Regions from separate parts of the Homo sapiens genome. Here all the other regions are linked to region 3. The links come from fine-mapping of genetic effects on gene expression. A gene starts in region 3. Each other region holds a variant in brackets. All regions are shown on one strand. Distances are from middle to middle. Region 1 has its middle 31 kb from the start of SPATA3-AS1. Region 2 has its middle 32 kb from the start of GPR55. Region 3 holds the start of GPR55 (G protein-coupled receptor 55). Region 4 has its middle 24 kb from the start of GPR55. Region 5 has its middle 20 kb from the start of SPATA3-AS1.

Evidence for each region. PIP is the estimated chance that this variant, and not a neighbour inherited with it, causes the effect.
Region 1: its variant is the best candidate, but not a certain one, in a credible set for the expression of GPR55 in testis (GTEx, PIP 0.62).
Region 2: its variant is the best candidate, but not a certain one, in a credible set for the expression of GPR55 in whole blood (TOPMed, PIP 0.58).
Region 4: its variant is the best candidate, but not a certain one, in a credible set for the expression of GPR55 in whole blood (TOPMed, PIP 0.70).
Region 5: its variant is the best candidate, but not a certain one, in a credible set for the expression of GPR55 in whole blood (INTERVAL, PIP 0.84).

What each region holds. Positions count from the first base shown.
Region 1 is chr2:230,962,591-230,967,210 of GRCh38, forward strand. No RefSeq gene overlaps it. Among named protein-coding and RNA genes, the nearest start is that of SPATA3-AS1, 31 kb to the right of the region's middle. The variant C/T (reference allele first, on the strand shown) is at 2,742.
Region 2 is chr2:230,955,155-230,959,774 of GRCh38, forward strand. It overlaps a transcript of GPR55 not described here and the pseudogene COX20P2. Among named protein-coding and RNA genes, the nearest start is that of GPR55, 32 kb to the left of the region's middle. RefSeq lists a silencer at 2,414-2,513. The variant C/T (reference allele first, on the strand shown) is at 2,447.
Region 3 is chr2:230,923,268-230,927,887 of GRCh38, forward strand. GPR55 (G protein-coupled receptor 55) reads right to left here and starts at 1,975. Exons shown (of 2, transcript NM_005683.4): 1 at 1,901-1,975. RefSeq lists enhancers at 1,320-2,108, 1,672-1,791, 1,912-1,961, 2,782-3,011 and a silencer at 3,232-3,411.
Region 4 is chr2:230,946,570-230,951,189 of GRCh38, forward strand. It overlaps a transcript of GPR55 not described here. Among named protein-coding and RNA genes, the nearest start is that of GPR55, 24 kb to the left of the region's middle. RefSeq lists enhancers at 33-192, 3,490-3,539, 3,750-3,819, 4,010-4,059, 4,190-4,249. The variant T/C (reference allele first, on the strand shown) is at 1,751.
Region 5 is chr2:230,973,736-230,978,355 of GRCh38, forward strand. No RefSeq gene overlaps it. Among named protein-coding and RNA genes, the nearest start is that of SPATA3-AS1, 20 kb to the right of the region's middle. RefSeq lists enhancers at 386-435, 556-695, 2,110-2,229, 3,334-3,383. The variant T/C (reference allele first, on the strand shown) is at 2,852.

The DNA.
Region 1 (4,620 bases), 39 kb after region 3:
CAAATAAACTCATATTCTGAGTTTCCAGGTGAACAGGAATTTGGGGGAGACACCCACCCCACATCAACAGGCTCCAACATAATAAAAGTAGACTATAACGGAAAGAGTTATTTAAGATATTTACGTTATTTAAGAGTTCTTGGCTGGGCACAATGGCTGACACCTGTAATCCCAGCACTTTGGGAAGCTGAGGTGGGTGATCACTTGAGGTCAGGCATTCAAGACCAGCCTGTCCAACATGGTGAAACCCTGTCTCTACTAAAAATACAATAGCTGGATATGTTGGTGGGGACCTGTAATCCCAGCTACTCAGGAAAAGCAGGAGAACTGCTTGACCCTGGGAGGCAGAAGTTGCAGTGAGCCAAGATGGCGCCACTGCCCTCCAGCCTGCGCAACAAGAGCAAAACTCCATCTCAAAAAAAATAATAAGAGTTCTCAGGGAAAGTCAAAACAGAAGAGAAAAAAAAATACCTGAAACTAGAGGAAACTAAAGTTTCTGGCACCTACAGCTATAGGAAACATTAAACACGGCCCAGCTACTAGTCAGATTAACATAAAACCTCACACAATAAGGCCGATTTACTTCAGGTCCTACTATCATATACATCATGTCCAGCTTTCAACCAAAATTTCAAAGATATACTAAAAGACAGTTAAAAACTGTCAACCTAAATAACAGAGAAAGGCTCTCTAAAAGAAAAAGATATTTATTCAGGAATAGAGCATTGCAGTGGGAATGTGTGTGCCACAGTAAACTGCATATTCAAGGAGGAAGAATGAGGATTATATTGTGTCCAGAATTGGTGGGTTCTTGGTCTCACTGACTTCAAGAATGAAGCCGGTGACCCTTGCAGTGAGGCATGTCCGGAGTTTGTTCCTTCCTTCTGATGTTCGGACGTGTTTGGAGTTTCTTCCTTCTGGTGGGTTCAGGGTCTCACTGGCCTCGGGAGTGAAACTACAGACTCTCACAGTGAGTGTTACAGCTCATAAAGGCAGTGCAGACCCAATGACTGAGCAGCAACAAGATTTACTGCAAAGAGTGAAAGAACAAAGTTACCACAGTGGAAACAAAGACCCCAGCGGATTACCACTGCTGGCTTGGGCAGCCTTCTTTTATTCCATTATCTGGCCCCACCCACATCCTGCTGATAGGTCCATTTTACAGAGAGCTGATTGGTCTGTTTTACAGAGAGCTGATTGGTCCGTTTTGACAGCATGCTGATTGGTGCATTTACAATGCCTGAGCTAGACAGAAAAATTCTCCAAGTCCCCACTAGATTAGCTAGACATAGAGCACTGCTTGGTGCATTTACAAACCTTGAGCTAGACACAGGGTGCTGATTGGTATGTTTACAAACCTTGAGCTAGACACAGAGTGCTGATTGGTGTATTTACAATCCCTTAGCTGGACATAAATGTCCCCACTAGATTAGCTAGATACAGAGTGCTGATTGGTGCATTTACAAACCCTGAGCTAGACACAGGGTGCTGATTGGTGTGTTTACAAACCTTGAGCTAGATACAGAGTGCTGATTGGTGTATTTACAATCCCTTAGCTAGACATAAAGGTTCTCCAAGTCCCCACTAAACCCAGGAGCCCAGCTGGCTTCACCTAGTGGATCCTGCATCAAGGCCACAGGCGGAGTTGCCCGCCAGTCCCACCGTGCACCCGCACTCCTCAGCACCTTGGGCGGTGATGGGACCCAGAGCCACGGAGGCTCGGGCGGAGCAGGAGCCCACGGAGGTGGGGAGGCTCGGGCATGGCAGGCTGCAGGTCCTGAGTCCTGCCCTGCGGGGAGGCAGCTGAGGACCCGCGAGAATTCGAGTGCAACGTGGGCGGGCCGGCACTGCTGGGGGACCCAGCGCACTCTCTGTGGCTACTGGCCCAGGTGCTAAGCTCGTCACTGCCCAGGACTGGTGGTGGCGGCCGGCCGCTCCTACTGCAGGGCTGCCAAGCCCACACCCACCCGGAACTCGCGCTGGTCCGCCAGCACCCCGTGCAGCCCCGGTTCCCACCCGCGTCTCTCCTTCCGCGCCTCTCCCTCCACACCTCCCCGCAAGCAGAGGGAGCCGGCTCTGGCCTCAGCCAGCCCAAAGAGGGGCTCCCACACAGTGCAGCGGGAGGCCGAAGGGCTCCTCAAGCGCGGCCAGAGTGGGCGCAGAGGCCAAGGAGGCGCCGAGAGCGAGCGAGGGCTGCCAGCACGCTGTCACCTCTCAATATGATTGTTTTGAAATGATTATCCTTGGCTACAAGAGTCAGTAACAAAGGTGATGCCTGTCCAAGGTTGAACATTTAGCTTTGCTGGGCAGATTTCCTTGCGGAAGTATTTTTTTGTGTAAGGTTACAATGGCTTTTGTGCAAGGTTTTGGTTTTTACAGAGCCTTTTGTGATAGTTTTGTTATCACACCAGTCACACAAAGACAAATACTGTATGATTTCACTTCTCCAATGTCCTAGAGTAGTCAAATTCACAGAGATGAAAAGTATAATTAGTTTTTGTTTCATGGCTATAGAATTTCAGTTTTCCCAGGTGAAAGAGTTCTGAGGCACTCTAGTATGGATCGGTCTCCCAGATGAACTCATCGTGGGTGGTGGTGATGGATGCACAACAATATGACTGCCACTAAACTATACACTTAAAAATAGTTAAGATGGTAATTTTTACGTTATTTATATTTCACCACAAAAAGAATGTCTAACTTTTAAAAAGTAAATAAATGAAAGAAGTAATGGGATGCAT[C/T]GTACCATACAAACTCTAATCAAAGAAAGGTGGGGCAACTGTATTAATTGCAGATAAAGCAGACTTCAGAACAAGGAAAATTATAAGGGAGAAAGAGGAACATTACATAGTGATAAAGGGATCAATTCCCCAAGAAAATAGAATAATTCTTAACATATATGTACCTAACAATGTCAAAATATGTAAGGCAAAAACTAGTAGAATTGCAAGGCAAATTAAAATATCCATTCTTATAGTTGGATACCTCAACATAAGAGATCAGTAGCTGACATATCCAATAAGGATATAGCTGAACTGAACAGCAGCATCAATCAACAGGACATAATAGACATTTATAAACAAATTCATCCAACAACAGTAGAATACACATTCTTCTCATGCTTACCAGAAATATTTACCACAATAGACCACATTCTGTGCCATATATGGAACATAAACATGTTTAAAAGAATTGAAGATGCAAAAATCCTCAATGAAATGGTAACAAATCTTTCAATAATGTCAGATTTGTCCAACACTGAGATTTATTTCAAGTATGCAAATCTGACTCACATTCTTAAATCAATTTACATAATTCATCACATCAACAGGCTCAAAAAGAAAAATCATATGATCACATCAATAAATGGAGAAAAAGCATCTGACAAAATTCAATACCCATTCATGATAAAAATACAACCCAAAATCTTCAGCAAACTAGGAATAGAGAAGAACTCCCTCAACCTGATGAGGAACAGCTACAAAAAACCCCTACATTTAACGTTAGACTTAATGGTGTAAAACTAGATGTTTTACCGTAAAATCATGAACAAGTCAAGGATGTTCTCTCTCACCAGTCCTTTCTATATCATACTGGAATTCCCAGCTAATACACTGCATTGTAAGGCAGTTTCATTGTGTGAACATTGTAGGGTTCCTACAATGGCATAGCCTACTGCACACCTGGGCTATACGTGTTAGCCTACATGGCATAGCCTACTGCACACCTGGGCTATATGGGTTAGCCTGTTGCTCCTAGGCCACAAGCCTGTGCAGCATGTTTCTGTACTGAATACTGTAGGCAATCGCAACACAATGGTGTATCTAAACATAGAAAAATATCGTTCAAAATATGGTAGGAAAAATAAAAATATGGTACACCTGTGTAAGGCGCTTACCATGAATGGAGCTTGCAGGACTGGAGGTTGCTCTGGGTGAGTCAGTGAGTGGTTGGTGAGTGAACGGTAAGGCCTGGGACATTACCGACCACTGCTGTAGACTTTGTAAACACTGTACATTTAGGCTACACCACGTTTATGAAAAATTTGTTCTTTCCTCAAGAATAACATAACCTTAGCTTACTGTACTTTTTTTATTTTACAAACTTTTCAATTTTTAAAAACATTTGGACTTTTTTATAATAATACTTAGCATAAAACACCAACATATAGAGCTGCACAAAATATTTTCTTTGTACCCTTATTCTATGAGCTTTTTTTTTTCTTTTTTTCTTCTCTTTTTTGAGGTGGAGTCTCCCTCTTGTCGCCCAAGCTGGAGTGCAATGGTGTGTCTTGGCTCACTGCAACCTCTGCCTCTTGGGTTCAAGCCATTCTCCTGCCTCAGCCCCCCAAGTAGCTGAGATTACAGGCATATGCCACCACGCCCAGCTAATTTTTGTATTTTTAGTAGAGACGGGGTTTCACCATGTTGGCCAGGCTGTTCTCAAACTCCTGACCTCAGGTGATCTGCCTGCCTCGGCCTCCCAAAGTGCTGGGATTACAGGCATGAGCAACTGTGCCTGGCCAAAAATAAAGTCTTTCTGTAAAGCCACCATAAGCAGTCAAAAGATAAATGCCAAACTGAAAGAAAAAAAAAAAACTTTTCACCACTTATATACAAG
Region 2 (4,620 bases), 32 kb after region 3:
CATCTACTTTGAGTGGCAAAGAAAAGAATAATTCACAATCCACTGTTGAAATTTTGTCAGATAATACAAACAACAAATGTTGTTAGCTGTCTAATTATTTTGTGTTATTTCCTTAAGGAAATTTCTCCTCATTTTTACCCAGTAGAAAGGTCTTGACTTCCTATTTTCCATGTCTCCTTGATGTGACAGCATATCTGAGTCCTTGTTATGGGCACACGTGACAGTGCATCAGATGCTCTCAGGAAAGAAAGTGGCTTTCACACAGATTCCTTGCTCACCTTAACATAACTGTACAGAATTCCCACAACACAGACACAGGCTTTTCTCACCTTACATTCTCTCCAGCCTGTTAAGACAGTTCCAGTGACTAAATCTGGTAGCACATTAGCAGTATCACTACTCAAGGGCCTATTAAACATCAGCTCAATGGAAACTTCTTAGAATTGTAAAGCAAATCAAATACAATTCAAATGTAGAGAAGGATTACACTTAAATGGTAGACCATAAAGGAGACTCATATGGGAAAACACAGCCAGAAAAGATTATGCCAGTGTCTTTTTGTTTTGTTTTGTTTTGTTTTGTTTGAGACGGGGTCTCATTCCATTGCCCAGGCTGGAGTGTGCCTGCAGTGGTGTGATCACGGCTCACTGCAGCCTTGACCTCCCGGGCTCAAGCAATCCTCCCACCTCAGTCCCCTGAGTAGCTGGGACTACAGGCGTGTGCCACCACATCTGGCTAATTTTAAATTGTTTTGTAGAGTCAGGGTCTCACTATATTGCCCAGGTTGGTCTCAAGCTCCTGGCCTCAAGTGATCCTCCCTCCTCAGCCTCCCAAAGTGCTGAGATTATAGGCATGAGCCACCATGCCCAACTACACCAGTGTCTTTAAACTAGAGGATTCCTAATTCTCCTTAGGAGAATCCCAATAGCTAGGACAGTGGGAGGTCTTGTTCTAACATTTACCTGAAAGCAGGATTTTATTCCCAAATTTATTTTATTTACTTTATTTATTTATTTATTTATTTATTTGAGATAGAGTCTCACTCTGTTGCCCAGGCTGGAGTGCAGTGGTGAAATCTCAGCTCACTGCGACCTCTGCCTCCTGGGTTCAAGCAATTTTCCTGCCCCAGCCTCCCGAGTACCTGGGACTACAGACATGCACCACCACACCCAGCTAATTTTTTGTATTTTTAGTAGAGTTGGCAGTTTCACCATGTTGGCCAGGCTGGTCTCAAACTCCTGACCTCAAGTGATCCACCCGCCTCCAGCCTCCCAAAGTGTTGGGATTATAGGCATGAGCCACCACTCCTGGCAATCTTTTAATTTTTTTAAATATCAAACTTGCAGAAAAGTTGAAAATCAGTTAAACAAACACCCAATTACCCTTCACTAAATATATATACATTTTTGCTGAAGCGTTTGGAGTAAGTTGCAGACATATGCTCACTTCACCCCTAAATACTTCACCTGCAGCTCCTAAAAGAAGAACATTCCTTACATAACCCAATACCATGATCACAATGAAGAAATTTAACATTTAACATGGATACAATAATATTATCTCATAATCTGTATTTTAAAAAAATCTTTATCTTGCATTTAATCAGGGTTCATGTGTTGTATTTGACTGTTTAATACCTTTTCATCTAGAGCTGTCTCCCTACCTTTTTTCGTCTTTCATGACGTTGACATTCTTGGAGAGCCTAACGGACTATTCTGGAATCTCTATTTGCCTAATTACTGCCTCATGATGTAATTCAGATTAACCTTTTTTTTTTTTTCAGTTCTAAGATCCCCCTGTGGATGCCTGAAACTGCAGAGAGTACCAAGCCTGACTGCCGCCAATCAGAAGTAGTTTCTGTTCAGGTCTTCCACCCACGAATGTAATGCCTTTTTCGTCTTAACTAAGCACTTATCACGCACTGTGGTCATCACTTTTGCAGTCTGAGGTACAACAGCAAAACCAGCACACATTCTTTTTCTTTCTTTACAATTTCAGAATTAGAAATTTTATTCTGACCATAGATTTTTGGCAATCTCAGCAAATGATTTTGTTTCTTGAGAACTTTTGCCTTTTCGCTTAAAGGAAGCACTTGAGGTCTTCTCTTTGGCATATCCGAATTGCTGGCATCACTACGCTTGTGCTTTGGGGACATTATTTAGTAAAATAAGGGTTCCTTGAACACCGGCACTGCGATACCATGACAGTCGATCACTGACGGCCGGTGGTGTCTCCAGCATGGATACGCGGGACAGAGGGATGATTCACCTCCTGAGCAGGATGGAGCGGGACAGCGAGAGATTTCACTGCGCTGCTCAGAACAGCGCGTGATTTAAAACTTGTGAATTTGGGCGGGACGGGGAGGGGCGCGGCTGGCCGGTCTTCCTTCTCCCGCGGCGCCGGCGGTGCTGGGCGGGTGGAGGCGGGGAGTCGTCCCCGTGGCCGC[C/T]GCTCCGGAGCCCGGCGAGCCCGCGAAGGGGAAGCTCTTTAAGCTCCTAGGCATTTCAGGTGTTGAAAATATTCCCTGTGCCCGGGATTCAATATTGTATGGTTCATTAGGATCTGTTGTGGCTGGCTTTGGACTTTTTTTTTGTTAACTAGTAGAATTAGAAAATCATGTGATGTTGGAGTAGGAGGATTTATCTTGGTGACTTTGGGATGCTGGTTTCATTGTAGGTATAATTATGCAAAGCAAAGAATCCAGGAAAGAATTGCCAGAGAAGGAATTAAAAATAAGATATTATGTGAAAGTACCCATCTTGATCCTGAAAGAAAAGAAACCAAGGGCAACAGCAGCAATTGAACAATCTTGAGCATAGAAATCAGACTCCCTGAAGTCAGTGTGAACAAAGCTAAGCTCAACCACATAAAACATTTTATGTACAATAAGCTCTCAATCAAGTAAATAAAGTTTAAGTTGTAATAAATAAAGAAAGAAAGGAAGAAAATTTTTGAATTATTTGTGGAGTTTTAAATTTAACATTTTCAGGCTGTGGCTAAAACTCAGGATAGTGAAACCACACATAAGAGAGTACTACTGTTATCACATCAGCAGGCATATAATGTTAGTCTCATTATTTGTAAACCTAACTTTAAAAAATTTTTTTAAATGTTTATGGGTACAATGTAGGTGTATATATTTATGGGATATATGAGATGTTTTGATACAGACATGCAATTGTAAAATCATGGAGAATGGGGTATCCATCCCCCTCAAGCATTTATCCTCTGTGTTACAAACATTCCAATTATACTCTTTTAGTTATTGTTAAATGTTCATTTCAGTTATTATTGACTATAGTCACCCTGTTGTGCTATCAAAAGTAGGTCTTATTCATTCTTTCTATTTGTTGTACCCATTAACCATTCCTACCTCCCTCTGACAGTGCCCCCACCCCTGCAACCACCACCACTCCCCTTCCCACACTCTGGTAACCATCCTAACTGTCTACCTCCATGAGTTCGATTGTTTCCATTTTTAGATCCTACAAGTAAGTGAGAACATGCAATGTTTGTCTTTTATTTTATAAACCTAATTTCGATCATTTAGTTAAGGTGATGTCCAAAAGATCTCTCCACTGTAATTAACACATAATCTGCAAAATGGTAGTTTGGTAATGTGTAAATATCCCATACCCAAGGACCTCTCACCCTATGGCCTTAGCACCCATTGACCATATTTTCTGAATCAGTTATAACGAGGGTCTTTACAAAATAGTGATAATCTATTTCTATCATTCTTTCTATCTTTATTAGCCGGCATTCTTCCATGAAGACAAGCTGAAATCTTGGTTTATAACTGTCATAAATCACATTTCAAGCAGCAGGAACTCTCCCACTGGAAATACAATGAGAAGTACAGTGTGCTGTGTGAGGTCACAGCAGTTCCAAAAATGGAAATCAGCATAGCTTTGGTTCCTACTTTTCTTCCTCCTCCTCACACTTTTTCTCCTCCAGCTGCTCCATTTATCGAATACTTTGTTGCCAGTGTTGTGGTTTAAGGGCTTCCAACAGGCCAGGCACCTAGCTCACGCCTGTAATCCCAGCACTTTGGGAGGCCAAGGTGGGCAGATCACTTAAGCCCAGGAGTTGGAGACCAGCCTGGGCAACATGGTGAAACCCTGTCTTTAGAAGAAAAATTTAAAAATTAGCTGGGTGTAGTGGTGCATGCCTATAGTCCCAGCTACTCAGGAGGCTGAGACAAGAGGATCACCTGAGCCCAGGGAGGTCAAGGCTGCAGTGAGCTGTGATTGCGCCACTGCACTCCAGCCTGGGCAACAGAGTGAAACCCTGTCTCAAAAAAAAAAAAGTTGCTTTACATACATAAAATCATTTAGTTATTCCCAGCAATCCTATGAGGTAGGTGATAGCAGGCCCATTTTTCAGATGAGGAAATTGAAGCGCAGAGAAGCAGCTTGCCCAAGGACGTCCAGTGAGTGACAGACCTTTGAACTCAGATGCATTTGACTTCGAAAGTCATGTTCCTGCCCAGCCACATTCCTAAAGCACTGCATTATTTTTTTTTTTGTATGCACAGAAAACAATCAGAGCAACAGTAATTCTTGATTTTTGTTGATTGCTAAACAACCCTTCATCCTTCTCTCTGAGTATTAGCAATGCAAA
Region 3 (4,620 bases):
TGAGAAGGTGGCCCTTCCTGCAGCTGCCAGGCTGTTATCTGCACAGAGCATTGCAGCGTGAGCCACCTCAGAGATGGCAGGGCCAGAGCCTAAAAAAGCAGCATTGGCACAGCCGCAGGGATGGATTTGAGGAGCCCTGGAATACTCCCCCAAAAATGCCGCAGTTAGAATACACAGCGTATCCACCAGTAACACCATAGTGTGAATAAAGTCATCCGCCTGTGCCTGAGCTGGGCTTCTGGGGGCCACGATAGAAGAAGGAACAGGACACAGAGGGGACAGAGCACATGACCACAATCTCCCCAATGCCTGAATGTTGCTGGAGCTTGGGCTGGGGGGTTGGAGTGGGGCTGGGAGAGGGGAGGGGCCGGCTTGGGGACGTGAAAGGTGGCCAGCAGTGTGCTCAGTGATCTACGATGGGAACTCAGGACACTCCTAGGAGATTGCCCTAATTATGCCCATTTTACAGATAAGGACAGTAAGGCTTAGAGATGTTAAAGATTCTACCCAAGGTCAAAAAGGCCGTGAGGGACCAGCTGGAACTCATGTTCTGAGTCTCTCCTCCTCGCTCACCCTGGCCCCCATCAGCATCACAAGCAAGAGCATCTGGGATCCAGGAGTTGCCAAGCCCCCTCCTCACTTCTTTGCATGCTCATGCTCCTCTTTCTCCTTGGACTCTCTCCTCCACTGCTAAAAATCCCACCTCTTCCTTGAAATGCCCACTTCCCAGGTTCACCCACATCATCTGATGTGGTTTTCCCAGTGCAGTCCTGAGTGGGTGCCTTGAAAAGTCCTCTGTGTATCCCAGGGGGAGCGTGTCCCTGCTGTCCTCCAGCAACCCCAGGACCAGGACCATGTCCCTTTCACCTTTATCACCGAGCCTCACATACAGTTTGTCGTTGGGAAGGTCTTATTGCATGAAAGAGGGGGTGAAGAAATGACGGAACAAATGGCCAGGTCTGCTGCAGCTCCACAGTGACTGGTGCTCCCTTTACAGCTGGGACAGCCGCTCAGAACCAAAGGCAAACCTTGCCTTCCACAGAGCTGTGGGCGGCACTTTGCCCTGCCCTGTCCTCTCATCCCCACTGCCTCGGGCAGCACAAAGCCCAGGTGAAGCCAGGCCAGCCAGACATGTCCTGACTTTGTGTTCTCACTCTCAGGGAAGAATCTAGAATGTTCAGGGTTCTAAGTGCTGCTGTGTCTTCCCGCCCAGCCTCTCCAAGAGACACTTGGCTAGGGTTAGAGAACAATGCAGCTATAATGTAGGATAGCAACCAGGGCTTTCCTCTCCATCATTTACTGCCCTTGAGCGCCCCGTGAGGAAGAAACCGTGTATTGCCTCATGCCCCAGAGAGGTAAACGGAGGCTAGAGAAATTACGCAGCTGGTGAGTGGGTGAGCCTGGGCTCCCAGGCTCCTTCTGGTCCCCAGTAAGCACTTGCTCAGGGCTGCAGGATGATCCCTGAGAGTGTGTCATCTCGGGCGCTTGGTGGTTTCCCAACAAGATTCTGGGGAATGGGCGGCGGGCTTGGTGGAGGGCGGTGGCACGTGAGCTACATGCCCCGGGAAGGCTCCCAGGCTGCCTATGGGGAGGTTTCCCGACCCGACATGATGCTGCAACCCTGAGTCAGATCAGGAGGAAGTTGAGGGTTCGTAGAAAAATGTCACTCGTAATCGGGGACAAACCAGGTCTGCCTGCCGCTGCTGCTGTCACGGAGGCTGCCTGGAGGCTGCCGCTGCCCTGACACCTGGGACTGCTCGCTGAGTTGGGACAGGTGTGCACAAAGCCCAGGCCCACACAAGCCCCACTGATCTTAGGAGAGTTACCTGCAGTCCACAAGAGCAAGGTCAGGTTGGAGGCTCCGTGCCTTAGTTTCTCTAAATGGCCCAGAGGCTGTTACCTGTTGGTGGTCCGGTGCAGCTGAGAGGGCTGAGAGATGTCATTTCTCCTCCAGGCCTGGCTGTCAGCCTGTTCTGGGGAGAGTCACTTCCCCTCTCTGGGTCTCGACTTCCTTGTGAGTGAAATAAAGGGGTGGGACCAGATGCTCTTTGAGCCGCTCCAGTGTCACCCTGTCTGGCTTAGGGGCTCTTGCTCTGGGGTCTACAGAGAGGCTGTGTGGAACTAGAGTGTGGACATGGGGAGCAGTTTCCAGGAGGAGGGTCTACACTCTCCCGCCCTCTTGGAAGATCTGCACGCCCCCCTCCCGCAGCTCCAAAAAACAAAACAAAAAACCAAAAAGCCAAAAATCACACTGCATGTGTCAAGCCCTGGGAAGCCTCTGGAGGAGGAAGCCTCCTACGCACCCCAGACACCCTAACAGGGGCACCACACAGGGGCAGCCATTCTCAGCACCTGCCAAGGGCCGTCGTGGCTTCCAGCACTTTGGGGGTTTAGGATTTGAAACTGCTGCCCACAGAAAGGAAAGGAAGGTGGTGCTATTTAGTACTTGCAGGTTAGGACTTGCGTGCCTAGCGTCGGAGGAGACCTCAGCCACTGCATGTGTGTCTGCAAGAATGGTCAGTGGGGCCCCACAGGTTCCCCAGCCTCGGCTTCTCTGTCCCAGGCCTGCACAGAGATTTGGGGCAGCCTTGGGCCTGTGGCTTCCTAGGGCCCTGCAAGCAGAGATTTCCCTGGCATCTCCCACCTTCAGGGCTGGGAGGGCTGAGACTCACCCGTGGGCCTGGGTGGCTCTTAGCTGGGAGCCCTCATAGATTCCAGCCCATCAGGAAAGTCTGGGCTGAAACTACCCCGGCAGATGCAGCTCTCATGCCCTGGAGGTGCTGGGAGGCCCTGTCGGAGGACCAAACACAAGCAATTTTTAAAAGCTATGCGTGCTGGGACTTTCAGGTGTCTACAGGAATAGAAACTACTCCTGGGTTTTTTGGATGATTCATCCAACACATGGGTCCCCTCTGTAAATAACACCTTGCAAGTCACTGCAGGGGAACCACCTGGCCCTCTGGAGCTGGGTCTTCCCACTGTCTGGTGAAGAGGTTGATGGAACCATGACAACTTTTAAGCTCTCACCTGGGCTTGTGCGATGGGCAGTGCCAAGTCCACTGCCTGCTCCAGGCCGTGGAGCCCCAAGCTGGCCTGGGTGCCAAGACAGGGCACAGGGCAGTCCTGCCCCCAGCGAGGCCCCCCTACTGGGCCACCAGCCCAATCTAAGCCAAAGGCTGGCTACTGGGCAAGGGGGGGCAGCCAGGCCCGCACCCTGGGTGCGGGAGGAGGCCAGGAGCCTGCTGGGACAGTAGCAGGGAGGAAACACACCGGTGTCTGGCACCCACCTCCATACCCAGAGCCTGCAATGTGAGGCCCCAGGAAGGCATCCACACTGAGTGGCCTGCAGGGAGCAGTGTCTCTGCTCAGCCCCTTCTCAAAGGGAGCCTTGTCTACTCCCATTCTGGCTACCTTCTTTTTTTTTTTTTTTTTTTTTTTTTGATACAGAGTCTCGCTCTGTTGCCCAGGCTGCAGTGCAGTGGCACTATCTTGGCTCACTGCAACCTCCACTTCCCGGGTTCAAGTGATTCTCCTGCCTCAGCCTCCTGAGTAGCTGGGATTACAGGCTTGTGCCACCAGGCCCGACTAACTTTTTTCGTATTTTTAGTAGAGACAAGGTTTCACCATGTTGGTCAGGCTGGTCTTGAACTCCCGACCTCGTGATTCACCCACCTCGGCCTCCCAAAGTGTTAGGATTACAGATGTGAGCCACCGCTCCCGGCCCTGGCTACCTTCTTTTAAGAAATGAATATTTCTACTTTATTGCTGTTGCAATATTAAAATTTTTAAATTTTTAAATTTTTGAAAACATGCACATGATTCAAATACATATGTAAACACATATAGGAAAATATCTGTCCCACTCCTAAATCCAGCTCTCACCTACCCCCCAGGGCACCACTGTTAAGTTTCTTCCAGAGTTTCTGTGCCCGCCCGTGTACACCTGAGCTCTTATTTTCTCCCTCTTTTGACACAGAAGCTAGAGACCACACGAGCTGCTCTGCAGTAGAAGGCATTGTCCACCTCCCTCTCCTGTGGGTATCCCTTGGATACCTTGGGGGATATCCAAGGTATATGGGGGATCCCTTGCCAAGATACGTCTCCAGAGAGACTCAAAGGTTTGAGCTCCTAAGAGCAAGGCTAGGCAGGGACTCGCCCAAGGCCCCGTCCTAAGGCTCAGGCCTGTCCCTCGAGCTTTTCGCCTCCCCTTGCCACAGGCCTGGGGAGTCATAAATAGGAAGACCTTTCTCAGAAAATTTCCCTTAAGCCTCCTGAAACTTCTCCCCCTAGTCCTGCCCACCCTCTCACCATCCAGAATCACTTGGAGGTTTTGGGAGCCTGGGCAGGTCCCTGCCTGTCTTCCAGGCTGGGAGCCCCGAGTTGGGGGGTTTGGGGGCACACACCTTCGACTTCACCAGTGGAGCAGCTTCGGAGCTTCAGGAACCAGCTTCTTCTAGGGCAAGGAACAAGTGAATCTGACTGTGTTTATCAAAGAGCGGGTCCAGGATAGCTGGGCGCTCACCACATCCTCCCCTGACGCTGGTGAAATTCGCTCCTTCAGCAGCCAGAGGCCTGGCCCTGCCCTCGTGGGGCATCCTTTCCCTCCAAGGGGGGAAACCT
Region 4 (4,620 bases), 23 kb after region 3:
CCTGTAGTATTAGGCCAAGATGCCACGAGGTCAGTGTAAGTGGTGGAGGGTAGAGATCAATGAACTAGAGATCAGTGAAATGACGCTGGCAGAAGCTGATGGTTGTGGAAGCAGGGTGTCCCAGTAGCATGGGACAAGTTCCCACTGCAGCCCACACCTGGACCAGGCCATAGCTGGGGCCAAGTTTCCACTCTGGCAGAGCTGGAAGAAAGCAGGCCCAGCCCATCAGACCTTTTAGGGACCTCCAGGGCCTAACTGGGGCAGGGGCCAGGGCAAGGCAGCTGTGGCTGGGGGTGCTCATGTGGTTCTTTAGGACTCCACTGAGGTTCTTTGAGACACACACCAAACTAGAGAGCAGAACATCTTAATCACATCATATTTTAGTGAACCCCAAAAAGTAAATAAGAATTGGCATAGGTTCATGCTGAACTAACCCTATTGCTCATTTCCTATGTTTGACTTCAGTGTATTCAACTTTCTGACGGCCCTGTCACATTGGCCACACCACAGACCCACGCCTTCCATTCCTTCATCATGCCCAAGCCAGAAAGAGCCATTAGCTGACAAATCGCTCCTTTCCACTATGGGTGTGGGAACCTGCCTGGCTGCCAACAACCCAGTTTGTGTATCAGTCTCCCCTTGGTCAGCACCACCAGAGTTTTGTTGGTTATGGGGCGATCTTACTGAAGTTGGTTAGGTGTGCTGCAGCAGCAAAGCTGGAGCCTGCCAGCTGCACCTTGGACGTGCACCAGCCAACTGGGCTCCAATGCAAAGGGCAAGAGCACGATGAAAGAGCACATTTGCAATCCTAGAAGATTGCATCTAAGTTGCAAGGTATAATTGGGACCCTGGTTACATTTTTAGCTCAGGGGAATAAAGCCCATCCCATACTCTCCACTCCAGTAGGGAGTGTCTGTTGGTCAACTTTATGACCTTTTTTTTTTTTTTTTTTGAGACAGGGTCTCACTCTGTCTCTCAGGCTAGAGTGCAGTAGCCCAATCATAGCTTACTGCAGCCTCGACATCCCAGGCTCAAGCAATCCTCGTGCCTCAGCCTCCCACGTAGCTGGGACCACAGGGGCACACCACCATGCCAGGCTAATTTTTAACTTTTGTAGAGACTAGGTCTTACTATATTGCCCAGGATGGTCTCGAACTCCTGGGCTCAAGCAATCTTCTCACCTCAGCCTCCCAGAGTGCTGGGATTACAAGTGTCGACCACCACATCCAGCCTTTTAGTGCTATTTTTTAAAGTACCATTGTGTTCAACTTCAGCTGGTGCCCCCCCTCCAACTCCTAACATAGCCTGCACCCAGCTACAGCGAGGCTTCCTAAAATACAAATCTGGCCCTGTCCTACCTAAGCAGAAACTCGGCATCCCGCCTCACCAGGCCACGGTGGCTTTGGTGTCTGTCAAGCTCCCCATCAGTGGATGAAGCCTGCAGTGCCCGCCCGGCTCCTTTGTGACATGGGTGTGGCCACTGACTTCAGTTCTCTCCAAGAGGTCTTGGGTGCTGCAGTTGCCACCGCCGCCCACCCCCTGGCCGCCCCCACAGCTTCCTCCCTTGGTGAGGCAAAGCACAGCCCCTATGCTTGGTCTGTGTCTCCCGCAGGCCTCTGACAACAGCTGCTTAGGAGAGCTTTCTCAGTCAGCACTGAAAGGGAACTTAGAACCAGCTGAGCTATCAGCCCCTCCAGGCCTGACTTCCCCACTCAGAGCCTCCCCCACTCCTTCCTCCCTCCCCATCTCC[T/C]GACCTCTGGGTCTGGGTGGCTGCTCTCCACACACCTCCCAACCGCACTGACCTGGGGAAGCAAGACAGATTCAACAGTCCTGATTTTTGTTTTCACTAATTGCAAAATAATAATAATAGTAATAAATAAATCAAAATAAACCAAAAAGAGAAGGAAAAATTCTCCCATAGTCCCTACCCTATATATGGAATAGAACCTACTTTCTCTCGTTGCCTTTGAGGCTTTGTTTCCAGGCAGAGCCAGCATGACATTGGCAGGCATGGTGAAGAGTCAGTTATATAATTCGGATTTTTTCACTTAGAGCTGTAGATATTCCTTCCATGCCAGTGCAGAGTCTTCATCATTATCCTTTTAAACCACATAATATTCTATTAAATGTATATGCCAGCATTTATTTAACCATTCCCCAATTATAGGTCATTTAGGAAGTTTTTCCTTCCTTTGGGAATTATTGTTTTAAAATATATTCCCTGAGGGTTGGGCGAGGTGGCTCACGCCTGTAATCCCAGCACTTTGGGAGGCAGGGGCAGGAGGATTGCTTGAGCTCAGGAGTTTGAGACTAGCCTGGGAAACATTGGGAGACCCTATCTTTACAAAAAATAGTCCGGTTTGGTGGCGTGCGCCTGTAATCCCAACTCCTCGGGAGGCTGAGGTGGGAGGATAATCTGAGCCAGGGGGGTCAAGGCTGCAGTGAGCTGGGATGGTGCCACCGCACTCCAGCCTTGGCAACAGACTGAGACCCTGTCTCAAAAAATAAAATTAATAAATATAAAATATAGTCCCCAAAGAGGAATCACTACATCAACAGGCCCTAATGCTTTTATGGCTCTTTTTTTGTTTGTTTGTTTGTTTGTTTTCTTTGAGACGGAGTTTCACTCTTCCACCCAGGCTGGAGTGCAATGGCGCAATCTCAGCTCACTGCAACGTCTGTCTCCCGGGTTAAAGCGATTCTCCTGCCTCAGCCTCTCGAGTAGCTGGGATTACAGGCACCTGCCACCACACCCAGATAATTTTTGTATTTTTAGTAGAGACGGGGTTTCACCATGTTGACCAGGCTGGTTTCGAACTCCTGAACTTGCGATCTGCCCGCGTTGGCCTCCCAATGTGCTGAGATCACAGGCGTGAGCCACCGCGCCCATCCTGCTTTTAAAGTTCTTGATAGCTATTGTAAGATTGCCTTCCTGGGAAGAATGGGGTGGATTCCATCAATTCCCCGGCCTAGATCAGCACTTCTCAAAGTGTGGCTCAGGCACTCTGTGGGGAAGGGTGGTCTTGGGACACTTTCTGGGGATCCACAAGGTCAAAACTATTTTCATAATAATACTGAAATGTTGTTAGTATTTCCTTTTCCACTGTCTTCCTTTAGTGAGTGTACAGTGGAGTTTTCTGGAGGCTGTATGCTGTGTGATACCACAATAGACTGAATAGAGATAGGAGAGGCCAACCATCTTTCATAAAGCCCAGCATCACAGAGATCTGTGGAAATGTAAAAATAATGCTTCTCTTCTCACTAAATTTATTTTTTTTTTTTGAGACAAGAGTCTCGCTCTGTCACCCAGGCTGGAGTACAGTGGCACAATCTCGGCTCACTACAACCTCCGCCTCCCGGGTTCAAGCAATTCTCTGCCTCAGCCTCCCAAATAGCTGGGATTACAGGCAACCACCACCACGCCTGGCTAATTTTTCTGTATTTTTAGTAGAGACGGGGTTTCACCATGCTGGCCAGGCTGAACGCCTGACATCGTGATCCACCCTCTCGGCCTCCCCAAGTGCTGGGATTACAGGCGTGAGCCATCACGCCCAGCCAGTTTCTTTGTTTTAATTTCTAACACAGGAAACACTGATAGATATCTACATAGATAAGAGCTTTTTGAGATCCTTAACACTTTTTAAGAGTGTAAAGGGGTCCTGAAGCCACATTGTCTGGGAACCACTGGCCTGCACATGATGTGGCAGAATGCAGAGTGTGCTGGACAGACCTTGTTCAGCCCATCGCCTACCTGCCTGTCTCCCAGGCATGGCACCCAGGACAAGACGCAGAGCAATTAGAGCAATTGGCTTTTTTGTCTTTTTATCTCTTCTTGCCACTTTTATTTTCTTCTCATCTTCTCTTTCCCCTCTTTTTTGTTTTTCTCGTTTTGCTCTTCTTTCCCGCACTCCAGCCTCAGACCTCATAACGAGAGCTGCACAGATAAGGAAACCTTCTCTGCTTCACATAAGTCAAACATTTTTTCTCACATCTAAATAGAGATTCGCGACACTGGAAATAGGTTTTTCATTATTACTAATATCATTCACAAGAAGTGACATGTGTGGTGTTATGATAAGTACACACGTGTTGGCTTTTGTCCACAGTTTCTGGCTCGGAACCCCCATAGTCCCTGTTACAGTCTCGTGTTATGACAGTGGCTGTGTTAGGCCTCAGGAAACAGAATCTCTCTGGCCTTCTCCAGCTCTCCTTTCACCTGCCGCAAGGCAGGACTCGTATCTTCCCCCGCCTTTCTGATTGTGGGTCTTAAGACTCTCCCCAGAGAGGGTTCTGTCCTATGCCCTGAGAGAAGGAACGCTGACATCATGAAGCTTCCATAAAAACCCCAAGAGGACAGGGTTCAGAGAGCTTCCGGAGAGCTGAGCACACGGAGGTTCCTGGAAGCTCCATGCCCCTTCCCCTATACCTTGCCCTGTGCATCTCTTCATCAGTGTCCTTTGTAACATCCTTTAGAATCAACGGGCTAATGTGTTTCCCTGAGTTCTGTGAGTCACTCCAGCAAATTGATCAAACCCAAAGAGGGCGTTGTGGGAACCCCAACTTGAAGTTGGTCGGTCAGAAGTTCCGAAGGGCCAGACTTGTGTCTGGGTCAGGGATAGT
Region 5 (4,620 bases), 50 kb after region 3:
GCCAAGATATAATTATTCCTGTTCTGGAATGTCAAACTTTAACATTTTGGCCACAATATTCTCTTTTGATCACATTGTCATAATAATTTTGGGATAAAGTGGATGTATCCAGAAGTCCATTCTATGTTGGGACACTTGGCATTGCTCCATGCTTGTGTGGGGGTGGCACCTTTACCTCCCTGCCTCAATCCTCCCCTTCCCTCCCACTGTCCCCTTCCACCTATCCTTTCAGGTAGGTCTTACACAAATGGCCCCTCCTCTGTCCTGTCTTTCCTGATCCACCCTGTGGCATTTCTCCACTTCCAAACTTCTCTGGTGCTTTTACTTGGCGTCAGGTGACATGCGATAAGACCTGGATTAATTAGTTAATGTTAATAACATCTGCTTGACTGCCAATCCTGAAAAATACCGTAATTAACATCATCAACCAGCCATAGGGAAACCACCTTGGACCTCCCCGTGTAAACTACTTTGGGCAGTGCCTTGGGTTTTTCAAGAGTTTGTCAGGCACTTGAGGTTGAGGCTCGAAGAAAGAATATTATTTGATTCTTAGCCATGGTGGGAACCGACATTTATCTAAGTGTTTTTCATAGACAGGAAGTGGTAATTCTCACCCTCCCTGATCTGGGCTCTGACTCACTGGGGTGCCCCAGCCTCTGGGCCTGGGCTCACTAGTGGTAGCCAGCTGACCTGAGCATCAGAGTAAGATGCGTGCCTGAAAAATTCCCCTGGTGGGGCCGGTCATGAAAAGTGCCGTTCTCCTCATTCATGTGGTTTTGTCAGGATGCCCGGATTCCGCAGGCCCGGGCCAGTTATTTTGAGCACACAAGTCACTTTAAAAGACCCCTAAAGGTCACTGGTCCCAAGGATTATTTCACCCCCTCACCACAGTTAATGTCGTCTCCCCACCTCTGTTTTTCTGTATTCCCATAACACATTCTGAGTGTGGCTATGTGATGTAAAGAGCTGTTTTCATGCAAATGTTCAGGGTAACATCATGCATAGTGTCTTAGTTCATCTCCTGCCGCTATACCAAAATACCACAGACTGGGTAATTTACAAGGCACAGACGTTTATTTGGCTCATGGTTCTGGAGCTGGGAAGTCCAAGAGCGTGGTGCTGGTATCTAGTGAGGGCCATCCCATGGCGGAAGGCATCACGTCGTGAGAGAGAACACACGCGAGAGGAAGGAAAGAGGGGCAGAATTCCCTGATTTTATATCTAAGTCACTCCTGTGACAGCTAATCCAGTACCCCAATAATGGCCTGAATCCACTCATGAGAGCTGTGTTCCCATGACCTAATCACCACTTAAACGTGCCACTTCTCAACATTGTTGCACTGGCAATTAAGTTTCCAACACATGAACTTTGGGGGACACATTCAAACCACAGCACTTAGAATATAACAGGATTGCCCCCCTACAGCCATGAGTCCCTTGGATCACCAAGTTAATGTAACAATAACAAAGTCTAATATGATTTACAGGAAATTGGAAGCTTTAAGTAGCCTCGTGAAGCCAAAGGGCAGCATTAGAGCATATCTTTTGACACCCGAAGCTTGTGTCAAAAAGGGTATTAACAGTTGACCGCCTCACACCCACGAGGATGACTATAATTTTTTAAATGGAAAATAACCATTGGCAAGGATGTGGGAAAACCGGAACCCTCCTACTTTGCTTGTGAAAAATGTAAAACGGTGCAGCTGATGTGGAAATCAATTTGTTGGTTCATCAAAAATTTAAACATGGGGCCAGGTGCAGTGGCTCACGCCTGTAATCCCAGCACTTTGGGAGGCCAAGGCGGGCAGACCACGAGGTCAGGAGTTCGAGACCAGCCTGGCCAACATTATGAAACCCCGACTCTACTAAAAATACAAAAATTAGCCTGGCGTAGTGGCACATGCCTGTAGTCCCAGCTACTCGGGAGGCTGAGGCAGAAGAATCGCTTGAACCCGGGAGGCAGAGGTTGCAGCGAGCTGAGGTCATGCCACTGCACTCCAGCCTGGGTGACAGAGTGAGACTTTATCTCAAAAAAAAAAAAAAATTTAAACATGGAGTTTCCATATGACCCAGAAGTCCCATTTCTAGTATGTACCCAGAAGAATAGAAACACAGGTTAAAACAGTGACCAAAATGTAAAAACAGCCCAGCTGTCCATAAGCTGTAAATGGATAAACTAGACTGTAGTACATTCATAAAACGGAATATTTCATCATAAAAAGAAGGCACTACCAACGCATGCTGCAGCTTGGATGAACCTAAGTGAAAGAAGCCAGACACAAAAGGACACATATTGTATGATTTCATATGTATGAAATATCCAGGATAGGCAAATCCATTCGAGACGGAAAGTAGGTTGGTGGTTGCCAGGGCCTGGGGGAGGGGGAAATGGGGCGTGGTTTTTTAATGTGTATGAGGTTTCCTTTGGGGGTGATAAAAATGTTATGGTTGAATGAGACGGTGAACGTACTGAAGCCACTGGATGTACACTTTAAAATGGTTAAAGTGGGCCGGGTGCGGTGGCTCTGCCTGAAATCCCAGCACTCTGGGAGGCCGAGGCAGGTGGGTCGTCTGAGGTCAGGAGTTCAAGACCAGCCTGGCCAAAACGGCGAAACCCCACTTCTACCAACAATACAAAAATTACCTGGGCATGGTGATGCATGCCTGTAATCCAAGCTACTCGGGAGGTTGAGGCAGGAGAATCGCTTGAACTCGGGAGGCCAAGGTTACAGTGAGCCGAGATTGCGCCACTGCACTCCAGCCTGACAGAGCAAGACTCTGTCTCAAAAAAAAAAGAAAGAAAGAAAGAAAGAAAGAAAAATAAATGGTTAAAGTGGCAAATTTTATGCTA[T/C]ATAAATTGTGCCTTAATTTTTGAAAAGTTTACACTTTGAGTGAGGCAAGTGTTTGGCACAGAAACCACTTCTCTCCTGGCAACACTTCATAATCCTCCAGTGGCAAAGCCCCTCTCCGCAAACCCATCTCTCAAGCCACGCACGTCCCAAGAGACACAAGAACACTAGAGGCCAGACAGGAGGGGACAGCCTGCATTGTGTCCTTCACCCTTATTTGGACCTTCGCCCTATTGCCTTCTCACACTCTCAGAATCCAGAGGTCATGCCAGTTCAAAAGGAGCCGGTATCATGGAGACTGGGGCTCAGAAACCAATACCCCCAAATATGGCTCTGTGACATGCTGAACTGAAGAAGAAGCCACAAGATTTCTCTGACCTCCCCCAACCCCCGCCTCTGTCTCAGTCTGTCTCTCTCAAAGCACAGAATGAGGTTGTTCTCTGAAGTTCCCTTATCTGCCTAAAGCCCAGACTCACTAAAGAAGAAAACAATTACTCCTGGTCCCTTCCTAAATTTTCATGAACTGAACTCATATCCAGGAAGAAAGACTGACATCTATCAACACAGCTAGGCAGACTTTTGTCACAAACCGTTGTATACTCTGCAGGCACAACAGACTTTGTCCCAGGCCATTGTATGTTCTTCAAGCCCATTGAATTTCTCTAAAAATCACTTAAACTAAAATCATCCACACTGCCCCATCTCCCTTTCCCCTAAGAAGAAGGGTATATAAGCATATGTACCCCGCTGGGTTATCGAATAATCACTCTGCTACAGTTCCCCATGCTTGACACGTTAAAATAAATTCATAGTGTTTTATCTAATTAACCTGCCTTTTGTGAGTTGATTTTTGTGCAAACTTTCTGAGAGCGAAGGGGAAGTTTTCACGGGTATTGCATGGTCTTCTGAAATAACTAGCATTAATATAGATTAGACAAAAACCAACCCTGAACAGGTTCCATGTGACAGCAGAATGTTCTGAAATGGGAAGGAATGAATGTGAGCATGAGAGGTCTGTGTGAACGGATAATGAGGTTCGGGGTAAGATGCAAAGGAGGATATATATTATACCATCTTTCATATGGAAAGAAGAGAAAATGAATACGTGTATGTGTTATTTTTGTGAAAAGAAATACAGTATTAAACAGACACTAATGGAAGGCATTCACCGTGGAGGTGGGAAGGAATGGGGTAGAAGGGATAGGAACGGCAGTGAGGCTTCTCTTGTATATCTCATATCATTGTCACTTTTTATTTTTTTATTTTTTCAGAGACGGGGTCTCGCTCTCTCACCAAGGTTGGAGTGCAGTGGCTCACTGGAGCCTCAGCCTCCTGGGCTCAAGCAATCCTCCTGCTTCAGCCTCCCAGTGGCACACGCCACCGTACCCAGCTATTTATTTATTTATTTATTCATTTATTTATTTATTTATTTATTTTTGTAGAAATGAGGTCTTCCTACGTTGCCCAGGCTGGTCTCAAACTCCTGGGCTCAAGCAATTCTCCCACCTCGGCCTCCCAAAGTGCTGGGATTACAGGTGTGAGCCACTATTCTCAACCCATTTTTACTTTTTAACTACATAAATGTTTCACGTATTTTAAAAATAAAATTAAATGTTAAAAAGGTGGGATAAAGAATACCCTACAATAGAATGCAAAAGAAGGAAATCAAACTGATAACGCCTCAAACTGATACCACAACCACACAGAGCAAACACTCTGATTGTGGAGAAGGATCTGTTCTAAGAACAGAAGAACTATAGAAAAACTTCTA